Linked DNA regions of Homo sapiens: region 1 is linked to region 2. The links come from fine-mapping of genetic effects on gene expression. Tissue or cell type: whole blood. Region 2 holds a variant in brackets; the other region holds the start of a gene. All regions are shown on one strand. Distances are from middle to middle. Region 1 holds the start of SLC17A5 (solute carrier family 17 member 5). Region 2 overlaps SLC17A5 (solute carrier family 17 member 5).

The links. PIP is the estimated chance that this variant, and not a neighbour inherited with it, causes the effect.
Region 1: SLC17A5 starts here. The variant in region 2 is fine-mapped to the expression of SLC17A5 in whole blood (TOPMed, PIP 0.99).

The regions. Positions count from the first base shown.
Region 1 is chr6:73,651,935-73,656,934 of GRCh38, forward strand. SLC17A5 (solute carrier family 17 member 5) reads right to left here and starts at 2,058. Exons shown (of 11, transcript NM_012434.5): 1 at 1,859-2,058. The coding sequence starts at 1,952. RefSeq lists a silencer at 1,504-2,173 and an enhancer at 3,173-3,262.
Region 2 is chr6:73,590,608-73,596,135 of GRCh38, forward strand. SLC17A5 (solute carrier family 17 member 5) reads right to left here. Exons shown (of 11, transcript NM_012434.5): 11 at 2,772-4,607. The coding sequence ends at 4,470. Among named protein-coding and RNA genes, the nearest start is that of SLC17A5, 61 kb to the right of the region's middle. The variant G/A (reference allele first, on the strand shown) is at 2,905.

The DNA of each region.
Region 1 (5,000 bases), 61 kb after region 2:
GATTTGCTTCAAAATACACAGTATGTATGAGCATAAGGCAAGACTGGCCATGAATTGATAACTTTAATCTGGGTGCTGGTTACATGGGGGCTCATTATATACTTCTCTTAATTGCCATATATGCTCCTTCTCTATAAAACTTATCATATTCTAAATAGCAAAAACAGTATGTTACTATTATTTCCACTTCACTTGCTCTCCAGTGGGTATGTAAAGAGGGAAAATAAAAAAGGAAATGGTTGTAACAAACGTAGCCACCTAAAGCCAGGAAGGACAGGGCCAGTACCATAAGATCCATACACTCAACACATGAATCAAGTAGGGATTGTTTTTAAAAGGGATGCTATAAGCTACTTTTTTAAAAATCAACTTTATTGAAGTATAATTTACGTGATAAATGTATACATTTGTCCATCTCAATCTTTATTGAGATGTATAACTTTTCTATCCACATCTCTGCTAACATTTGGTATTATCAGCCTTTTGGATTTTAGCTATTCTAGTGGGTGTATAGTGCCTCGTTGTAATTTTAATCTGCATTTTCCTGAGAATAATGTTTAACATTTGTGCTAAATTTTGATTATACATATACATATTTTTCAATTGTAACAATGTAATAATCTCTGGCAAATATCTTTATTATAACTTTTATTTCTGTATTTCTATATTATTTTATGAGGAATATTATACAATTTGAACACTACAAGCCACAGAAAATGATCAGTTTATGGAACTAAGTCCGACTTCCAGGTAAAACGTAACTATGGTATGGTATTTACAGTTTGTGTTGACTAAAATAAGCTCCCGGCTGCCAGATGGAGCTATAAGGTTGCCACCTCTACTGCCACCATCTGGTAACATTAAAAACAAATAAAAATATAGAAACTATACAATTCTGGGTTAGCCAAAGTCAAATTTCCAACACAACTCTTTCTCACGCACAGATCTTTGAAACTATAGAATGCATTCAAACTGATTTGTTCTTTAGTTTTCGTTACTTTTAAATAAACTATATTACAAAAGTGTCAAATAGCAAAATATTTTAATTTTCTCAAATTCAGGGAAGATGCTTTATGACGTACCTGCTTTTCGATTTGTTCCAAGACCTTTGGCAAATTACTTTAGAACTCCATAGGTATCTTGAGGATAACTGAACCTTTTCCTAACTTAAATCATAGACTGCCAGACGGAAAAAAAATGTCCTCGATGTTTTTAGTCTCTTACTGCACAATGTCAAGATATCAGCTGGGTTATACAATAGTTGCCCTCTGCATACTCACAAATGTTAACTCCAGTCCTTTTTTGTCTTCCCTCCCCGCCTAAGAAGCTACCAGGTCACATGCTGGCGGATACGCAGTGGCGGAAACCTAGCGGTGACAGGGAAGGACAGCCCTCTGCCTACTGATCTGCAGGTTTCTCCTCCAGTTTGCTCTTACACCGGGGTCCTCCGCTCGGACCTTAGCCCATTCATTTGATGATTCTCTCCCAGTTCGTTCTTCCACTGGGTCCCTTGCTCAGCACTACCCAAAATAACCACCAGCTCAGCGCCGGCTGCACCGCCGCTCCCCCGCCCCCGCCCCCGCCCCCGCCCCCGCCCGGTGGGGCTGCACCTGCCGAGGCCCCGGCTCGGCTCCGCGATCACGGTCGCGGCCCCCGGGGTTCCCGAGGGGCTTCTGCGCACCGAGGCAGGCGGGACTGAGCGGCACTCTGAACGGGCTCCCCTCTTAATGTCCCCTCGCGCCTGAGCAGCTCCGGTCCCGCCGGCGCAGGGTGCGGGTACCCGGGCCATGCCGGCCCAGAGACCGCCGCCCCCGGTACCGCTGCCCACTCGAAGCCCCTGGACGACCCCGCCGCTTACCGGCTTCGGCCCGTGGGGCGCCCGGTAGAAGAGGCGTGCGGTCCGTGCTCTCCTCGCCATCGTTCCGGGCCAGGTCTCGAACCGGAGACCTCATGACGCCTACGTGAGCAGGTGTACTCGCCACCTGGCAGAGAAGGGAGCGCCGGCCCGACAGCCCGAAGCCCCCGGGCCGAGCTGGCTGGACCGGGCGGGGCGGGGGCGATGACACCGCCCCGCGGCCACGTCTAGTCCCCGCGGTCCCGCCCAGAGGCGGCCGCGCCGACTCCGCCCCCGCCGCCATCTTAGGTGTGGGCAACTCTGGCTTGGGTTGGACTAGGGAAGCGGAGTTCTGGGAGTTCTCGTAGGATTGGCGCAAAGTGAGCCCGCTCCGCCCGCCGGTCTACGCATGCCGGGGAGCCGGTGTTCGGACGACCGTCTCCCGCTCCTGCACCCCCTTGTAAAGTGCAGGGGCCACCCTGCCCGCAGCGAGGATGAGTGGGGGCTTGCGGGCGGGCAGTGGGGACTTGAATTGCACATAATTAAGGGGAGGGCTTCGACCGAACTAGGGAAGTGGGTGGTGTGCATTTCACAACTTGACATTCGCTTGTTAGCGGTCAGTTGCCATACTGTTAGCAACCTTTGTACGATCTACCTCGTGACTGTGGCGGCATATTTACCTCGTGACTGTGGCGGCATATTGTCCCTAAAATAGCTTTTTTTTTTTTTTTTTTTTCTCCCAGGCAGGGTCTTGCTCTGTTGCCCAAGCTGGAATGCAGTGGCGCAATCGCAGCTCACTGCAACCTCCAACTCCTGGACTCAAGCGATTCTCTTCAGCTCCCCCAAGTAGCTGGGACTACAGGAGCATGCCACCACATCTGGCTAATTTTGTTTCTACTTTTTATTTTTGTAGAGGCTTGGTCTTATTATATTGCCCAAGCTGGTTTCGAACTCCTGGGCTCAAGCAATCCTCCTCGGCCTCCCAAAGTGCTGGGATTACAGGCGTGAGCCACTGCTCCTGGTCCTAAAATAGCTTTTAGGCGGAAAAACAGCAATGGAAATTTGTTGAGTCCTATGATGTTGCTGGTTTTATAGGTAAAAGTAATCAACATAGGTAGTTTCATATGGTTCGACCTATGGAATCCTCTGATGTATGTGTGCATGCTTTATCTCCACGATAGAATTTGGATAGATTGTGCTAGCATTTGCGGACTCTGAAAGTGAAACTAGGAAAACCCAGCTTGCCTTGGCAGGGCAGATCTGGATCCGCCAATAAAGGCTGTCTCTGTGGAGGTAGAAAATAAGATGTAGATGCTCTCGGAGAGTTTGGTGTAGACAGGGAAGACCCACAAGCCACTAATTCAGTAAACCAGGTTAGAAGCTTAGTGAGGTTCACGTGAGAACAAAGGGGAGGGTCCTTTACCTAGAAGGGAGGGCGAGGATTTCTGTAGGCATCCCTACCTCCAGATCAGTAAATGCTAGAAAAGTTCTCAAGTTAAAGCAGCAAATCAAGCCTTGTTTCTGAGTTACTGAATTACCATGTAGATTTTTACACTCTCTAAGGGTTGTAGAAAAATGCAATTTTCAAACTGGATTATGCAGAGTCACCTGGCAAATCCTTTTAAAATGTAGATTCAGATTCAGCAGATCTGGTGTGATGGTTAATTTTATGTGTTAACTTGCTGGTTGTCTTTGGATGAGGTTAACACTAAAATCATTGAACTCTGGGTAAAGATGGCTGCCTTCCATAATCTGGGTGGGCTTCCTTCAATCAGTTGAAGGCCTATCTAGAATAAAAAATCCGACTCCCCCACTTCTCTTGCCCAAGCAAGGGAGACTTCTCCAGCAGAGTGTCCTCAGACTTCATCTGCACCACAGGTCCTCCTGGGTCTCCAGGCATGTGCACCATCATCTGTTTTGGGTCGAGTTGGCCAGCCTATATTGTGAAAGCCAAAACTTTATTACCCAAACTACCCAATTGGGGCTGTTTCTCTGAGAAGCCCAGTACATCTGGGATGTGCCTGAGATTCTGTATTGCTAACAAGCTCCCAGATGACCAAGGTTATAGATAACTTGGGCCAGGGAATATAGTTGCAACAGACTTGAAAGACTTCAAACCAGAGGAATTCTTTTTTTTAATATTTTTTATTTTAGAAATTTTAGGTTTACATAAACGTTGCAAAGATAGTACAGTGAGTTCTCCATACCCTTTGCTTAGTTTGACCTATTATTAAGATCTTACATTAGTATCATGCATATATCATAACTAACGAGCCAGTATAGATAATTATTAACTGAAGTTCATACTTAATTTGCGTTTCTTTAATTTTTACCTAATATCCTTTTTCGGTCCCAGGATCTCATCCAGGATGCCACATTACATGTCTCCTTAGGCTCCTCTAGATCGACAGTTCCTGACTTTCATTGCTTTTGCTGACCTTGACAGTTTTGTAGAGTACTGGTAGGTTTTGTAGAAAGTGTCTTAATTTGGGTTGTCGAATTTTTTTTTGAGACGAGGTCACGCTCTGTCGTCCAGGCTAGAGTGCAGTGGCACGATCTCGGCTCACTGCAGCCTCCACCTCCCAGGTTCAAGCGATTCTCCTGCCTCAACGTCCCGAGTAGCTGGGACTATAGGTGCATGCCACCACGCCCGGCTAATTTTTTGTATTTTTAGTAGAGATGGGGTTTCACCATGTTAGCCAGGATGGTCTCCATCTCCTGACCTCCTGCCTCAGCCTCCACCTGCCTCAGCCTCCCAAAGTGCTGGGATTACAGGCATGAACCACCACCCCCGGCCTGAATGTTTTTCTTATAATTAGACTGGGGTTATGGATTTTTGAGGGAAAGGTCATAGAGGTAAAGGGCCATTCTCATCATGTAATGTCAAGGGAATGTGCTGTCAACTTATTTATCACTGATGTTTATCAGTAGTGATGGTAAGCCTCATTGCATGCCTGAGGTTGTGTTTGTCAGGTGTTTTCACTGTGAAGTTAACTCTTTTCCCCCGGCCTTACTTTTCTCTTTGGAAGGAAATCAGTATGTGCAGCCTTCACTTAAGGGGTGGGGAGTTATCTATACTCCACCAGTTTCAGGGGAAGAATTCTTTTGTTTGGGAGATTTGTTTATTCTCCTACATTTATTTACTTATTCAATCATTTATTTTTAT
Region 2 (5,528 bases):
CGCATGCCTTTAGTCCCAGCTACTCAGGAGGCTGAGGCAGGGGAATCGCTGAACCTGGGAGGTGGAGGTCGCAGTGAGCAGAGATCGCGCCACTGCACTCCAGCCTGGGCAACAGAGCAAGTGTCCGTCTGAAAATAAATAAATAAATGAAACAATATATTTATTTGAATAGGTCATACTGCCACATTTGGTAAAGTGAAAATTAATTGTCCTTCCTATCCCTAGTTGCTGATTTTATCTCTATAGAGGTAACCGTTGTTTGTGGAAAAATCTACTCAAACTGTGTTTTTTTTTTTTTGTTTTTTTTTTTTTTGTTTTTTTTGAGACTGAGATTCGCTCTTGTTGCCCAGGCTGGAGTGCAATTGCGTGATCTTGGCTCACCGCAACCTCTGCCTCCTGGGTTCAAGCGATTCTCCTGCCTCAGCCTCCCGTGTAGCTGGGATTACAGGCATGTGCCACCATGCCCGGCTAATTTTGTATTTTTTAGTAGAGACAGGGTTTCTCCATGTTGGTCAGGCTGGTCTCGAACTTCTGATCTCAGGTGATCTGCCTGCCTCAGCCTTCCAAAGTGCTGGGATTACAGGCGTGAGCCACCACGGCGGGCCAAATGTGTTTTTTTTCTTTTTCTTTTTCTTTTTTGAGACGGAGTCTCACTCTGTCGCTCAGGCTGGAGTGCAGTGGCGCGATCTCAGCGCACTGCAAGCTCCGCCTCCCGGCTTCATGCCATTCTCCTGCCTCAGCCTCCGGAGTAGCTGGGACTACAGGCACCTGCCACCATGCCTGGCTAATTTTTTTGTATTTTCAGTAGAGGTGGGGTTTCACCATGTTAGCCAGGATGGTTTCGATCTCCTGACCTCGTGATCCACCCGCCTCGGCCTCCCAAAGTGCTGGGATTACAGGCGTGAGCCACCGCGCCCGGCCCAAATGTGTTTTTTTCTTATCTCTCATTCAACAATAAACACAGAAGACTTCTGTGATTAAAAGGGTGTGGGTTTTTCCTCACACACCAACTAAGCAATCAGTTCTGCAACAGACACCGACTGGGTGTCTCCCAATTCAGTACTGACACTGTCTACCTGGAGGTAGCATCCGATTCCACAGGTTGAAGGCCCAGTCCCCAGGATTGCCCACCACTGGAGACACCAGTCCCAAGTCTAGGGTTCTGGAACTTGTGACCTGCTGGCTTCAAGTTGAGGTTTTCACAACTGCCTCTTTTGGTTCAATCGATTTGCTAGAGTGGTTCGAAGAACTCAGGGAAACACTTATGTTTATCATTTACTATAAAGGATATTACAAAGGACACAGATGAAGAGATGCACAGGGCAATGTCTGGGGAAAGGGATGAGGAACTTCCATGCCCTCTCTGGGCGTGCCACCCTCCAGGAACCTCCATGTGTTCAGCTATCAGTAGCCTCCCCAAACCCTGTCTTATTAGGCCTTTTATGGAGACTTCATTGGATAGTCATGATTAACAACCATGTAGAAATGTGATTGGACAGAAAGGGTGTGATCTAACACTAATAGACTCAGAGGGAAACCCACCAAGTCCTGTCCAGATTCTTCTTGGCCTCTCTGTGCAGCATTCCTTCCTCCAGGGTATGGAGAGGACCTCTTCTCAAACGTGGGCATGGGGTCTTATGACCTACAGTCCAACAAGGTAGGCCACATAATTTTTTTTTTTTTTTTTGAGACGGAGTCTCACTCTGTCACCCATGCTGGAGTGCAGTGGTGCAATCTCGGCTCACTGTAACCTTCACCTCCCGGGTTTAAGTGATTCTCCTGCCTCAGCCTCCCGAGTAGCTGGGACTACAGACGCCCGCCACCACGCCTGGCTCATTTTTGTATTTTTAGTAGGGACGGGGTTTCACCATATTGTCCAGGCTGGTCTCGAACTCCTGACCTTGTGATCCGCCCGCCTCAGCCTCCCAAAGTGCTGGGATTACAGGTGTGAGCCACCTCCCCAGCCACAGAATTTCTTTATGACCAGTTCCAAGACAGAAAGGTGGGGGAAGATTCCTGCCTTGGGAGAAAAAGCAGCAGGTGAAAGGAGGAGAGGAGAGGATCAGAAAGATTCTGTTTCCTGAGGCTACTTCTAAGGGCTAAAGGCGCTCAACATAACAAGAGCTACGGGAGTTATGAGCCTCGAACCATGGATGAAAATCTATATCTGTATCTATATCTATCTATAAAATCACACACTGTTTTCCAGTTTCTTGAGTATTATCTTAGAGATATTCTGTACACTTGTGATTTAATGTCTCCAGGAGACTTCTGTATTTTTATTTAAGGACTAGAGAAGACGTGTGTATCTCTGAGATAGAAGGAAAAGAATAAGGGGAGAGACTGAAGAAGTAAATGAAAGAGGAGCTCCTAACTGGGCGTGATAGCACATGCTGTGTAGTGCCAGCTACTTGGGAGGCTGAGGCAGGAGGATCGCTTGAGCTCAGCTTGGGCAACAAAGCAAGACCCTGTCTCAATTATTTAAAAAAAGAATTACTGAAGCAAGTCCTTAGAGGAGGTGGGAGAGAGAGAATCAGTGTAGTGTGGGCATATGCTATAGCAAGAAGGACTGACTCTATTCAGAGCTAGGAAGGGCAGGTTGATGGCAACAGAGATTTCTGATGCTGTATCCCTTAGGAGGCCCAAGTTCCTCGGCTTTGTGGTAGCAGAAATGTGTGTAGAGAAGACGATGGCTCGAGCAGGATGCAGAAAAGATGTCAAAGAGTCACTGTGGACACTAGGAAACATCACAGAACTGTCAGATCCAAAAATCAATTCACAAAGGTTTATTTTGATGATTTATAAAAGAAACATTGCCATAGCAATTTAAAGCTATTTACAAATTTAAAAATAAATGTACATAAATGTATTCACATCACATTAAACAGTTTTAAAATATTACAC[G/A]TAGTGTTGAACACAAAACATAAACTAAGTTTTAAGCCACATAGGTGTTCTGAAAGCATGCTCAACAACCACAGCCACTGGAGGATGGTCCACTGGAAAAATATGATTTCAGGAACCAGAAGTAAAGATGATTACCCTAGTCTCAGGTGATGTGGCCTTTAAAAGTCACTTTAACTTTAAACTGCAACACAAACTTAGATGAAGACAGACTGAACAAACAGTGAGAATTAATTAAAAAAAAAATTCTCGTGTAGCTTAAAAACATAGAACAGGCTGGGCACAGTGGCTCATGCCTGTAGTCTCAACACTTTGTGAGGCCGAGACAGGAGGATCGCTTGAAGCCAGGAGTTCAAAACCAGCCTGGGCGACAAAACGAGACCCCATCTCTACAAAATACAAACGAACAAAACACAGCACATAGAAATTTATACTGTGATCCATGTGAGAGTAGATTTAAACCAGGATGATCTTATTTGTGATTGACTGGGCATCGCACTTTTCTTTCTTTATTCTTTTTTTTTTTTTGAGTTGGAGTCTCGCTCCATCGCCCAGGCTGGAGTGCAGTGGCGTGATCTTGGTTCACTGCAACTTCCACCTCCCAGGTTCAAGTGATTCTCCTACCTCAGCCTCCTGAGTATCTGGGATTACAGGCGCCCGTCACCACGCCCAGCTAATTTTTTGTATTTTTAGTAGAGATGGGGTTTCACCATGCTGGCCAGGCTGGTCTCGAACTCCTGATCTCATGATTCGCCCACCTCAGCCCCCCAAAGTGCTGGGATTACAGGCATGAGCCACCGTGCCCGGCCGCTTCGCATTTTTCTTTTGCAGGTTGCATGCCAGCCAATATTCCTCTGTGCTGGGAAGGGAAAGTTTGAGGATGTATCAAGACCATAGCAGTGGATCTCACTGCTCTTGCCTACTCAGGGCTTTATCTACACATTGATAGCCCCTCAGAGGAAAGGCACCAGCCGAAGAGTCGACACTGGCTCTGGGCTTGGATGCTGCCTCTGATAAACGCTGGGCACTCTGACCCTGAAGCCAGGGAGGGAGTGCTTGGCAGCTGCCTGGGCACACTCCCCTCAGTCCAGTTGCCAGGCGAAATTATACAGTGGATGGCAGCTCCACAGAGATGCTAAAGTTTGAGGTCTAAGTGTCAGAGAGAGCTGACAATTTTTATGAGGAAAGTGAACAACAACAGGTGTTTATCAGTACCTGAGAATTATCATCTAGTTTAATTAAGCAAAGGTATCAGGAGGTCTGTTTCAGCTCATTCCCTTTAGTATGGCCCTAAAAAATCAACAGAACTGTCCTACTTCATGTTGCCCGACTAGCAGGCAGGTATGTGAACCTAAAGTAGAAGTCCTAGCTTACATATTATTCATAATTAAACACAGTTCATTTTATTATTCTGGCAACTAGTGATATTTCATGATTATAGGCCTTAAAAATCTAATACAAGTACAATTAAAAAAAGACATAGAATGCTTACACAATACAGAAGGCACTTTGAGGTTACATGATAAATAAAAATACATTAATAGAGGCAGGATTATTTATTGGTTCCTTCAGTGTCTGTGTCCATGGTGATCATTGAGAGCCCAGTTTTGTACTTCACCTTTGGCGAATAGTGTAAAGAAAATGGCACCAAAAACATTAATAGCAGCAGCAATATAGAACACGGTTTGCCATTCTCCAACAGTGTTCTATAAAGGAAGACAAAAAATGCAAGTGAAATAAAATTTTGTGTGTAGTTCACTTCATTAAAAAGATAGTGTCACAAGAGTGTTAAAACAGCCACATTATTCATAAAAGCCTCATCCTTGAAACAACCCAAATGTCCACCAGCAGTAGGATAGTGGTATATTTGTTCAACGTAATACAATACAGCAATGAGAATGGGCTACAACATCATAAATACAGCTCACAAACAAAATATGAAGCAAAAGAAGCCAGACAAAAAAGGTACATACTAAATTATTCCATTTATATAAAGCCCAAAGTCAGACCATACTAATCTATGGGGTTAAAAGTTGGGAGAGTGGTTCCACTTGGTGAGGGTGAAGGAAAAATAGGAGGAAATGGTACCTGGGGTCTTACTGAGGGAGGTAATATTCTGTTTCTTGATTGGGTGCTGGTTACACAGATGTATTAACTTTGTGGAAATTCATCTAGCTGCACACTTTAGATTAGTGCATTTATTTATTTTTGTTTTTATTTTTGAGACAGAGTCTCACTCTGTCACCCGGGCTGGAGTGCAGTGGCGCAATCTCGGCTCACTGCAGCCTCCACTTTCTGGGCTGAGGCAATCCTCCCAACTCAGCCTTCCAAGGAGCTGGGATTAGAGGTGCATGCTACCATGCCTGGCTAATTTTCTTTGTGTGTGTATATATATGTATATATATACGTATATATATACATATACATATATATATATATACGTATATATATACATATACATATATATATATATTTTTGGTAGAGATGGGGTTTCGCCATGTTTCCCAGGCTGGTCTTGAACTCCTGGGCTCAAGTGATCCACTCGCCTCAGCCTCCCGCAGTGATGGTACTACAGGTGTGAGCCACCACGCCTGGCCTGGATTTGTGCATTTAAAAAAAGTTATACT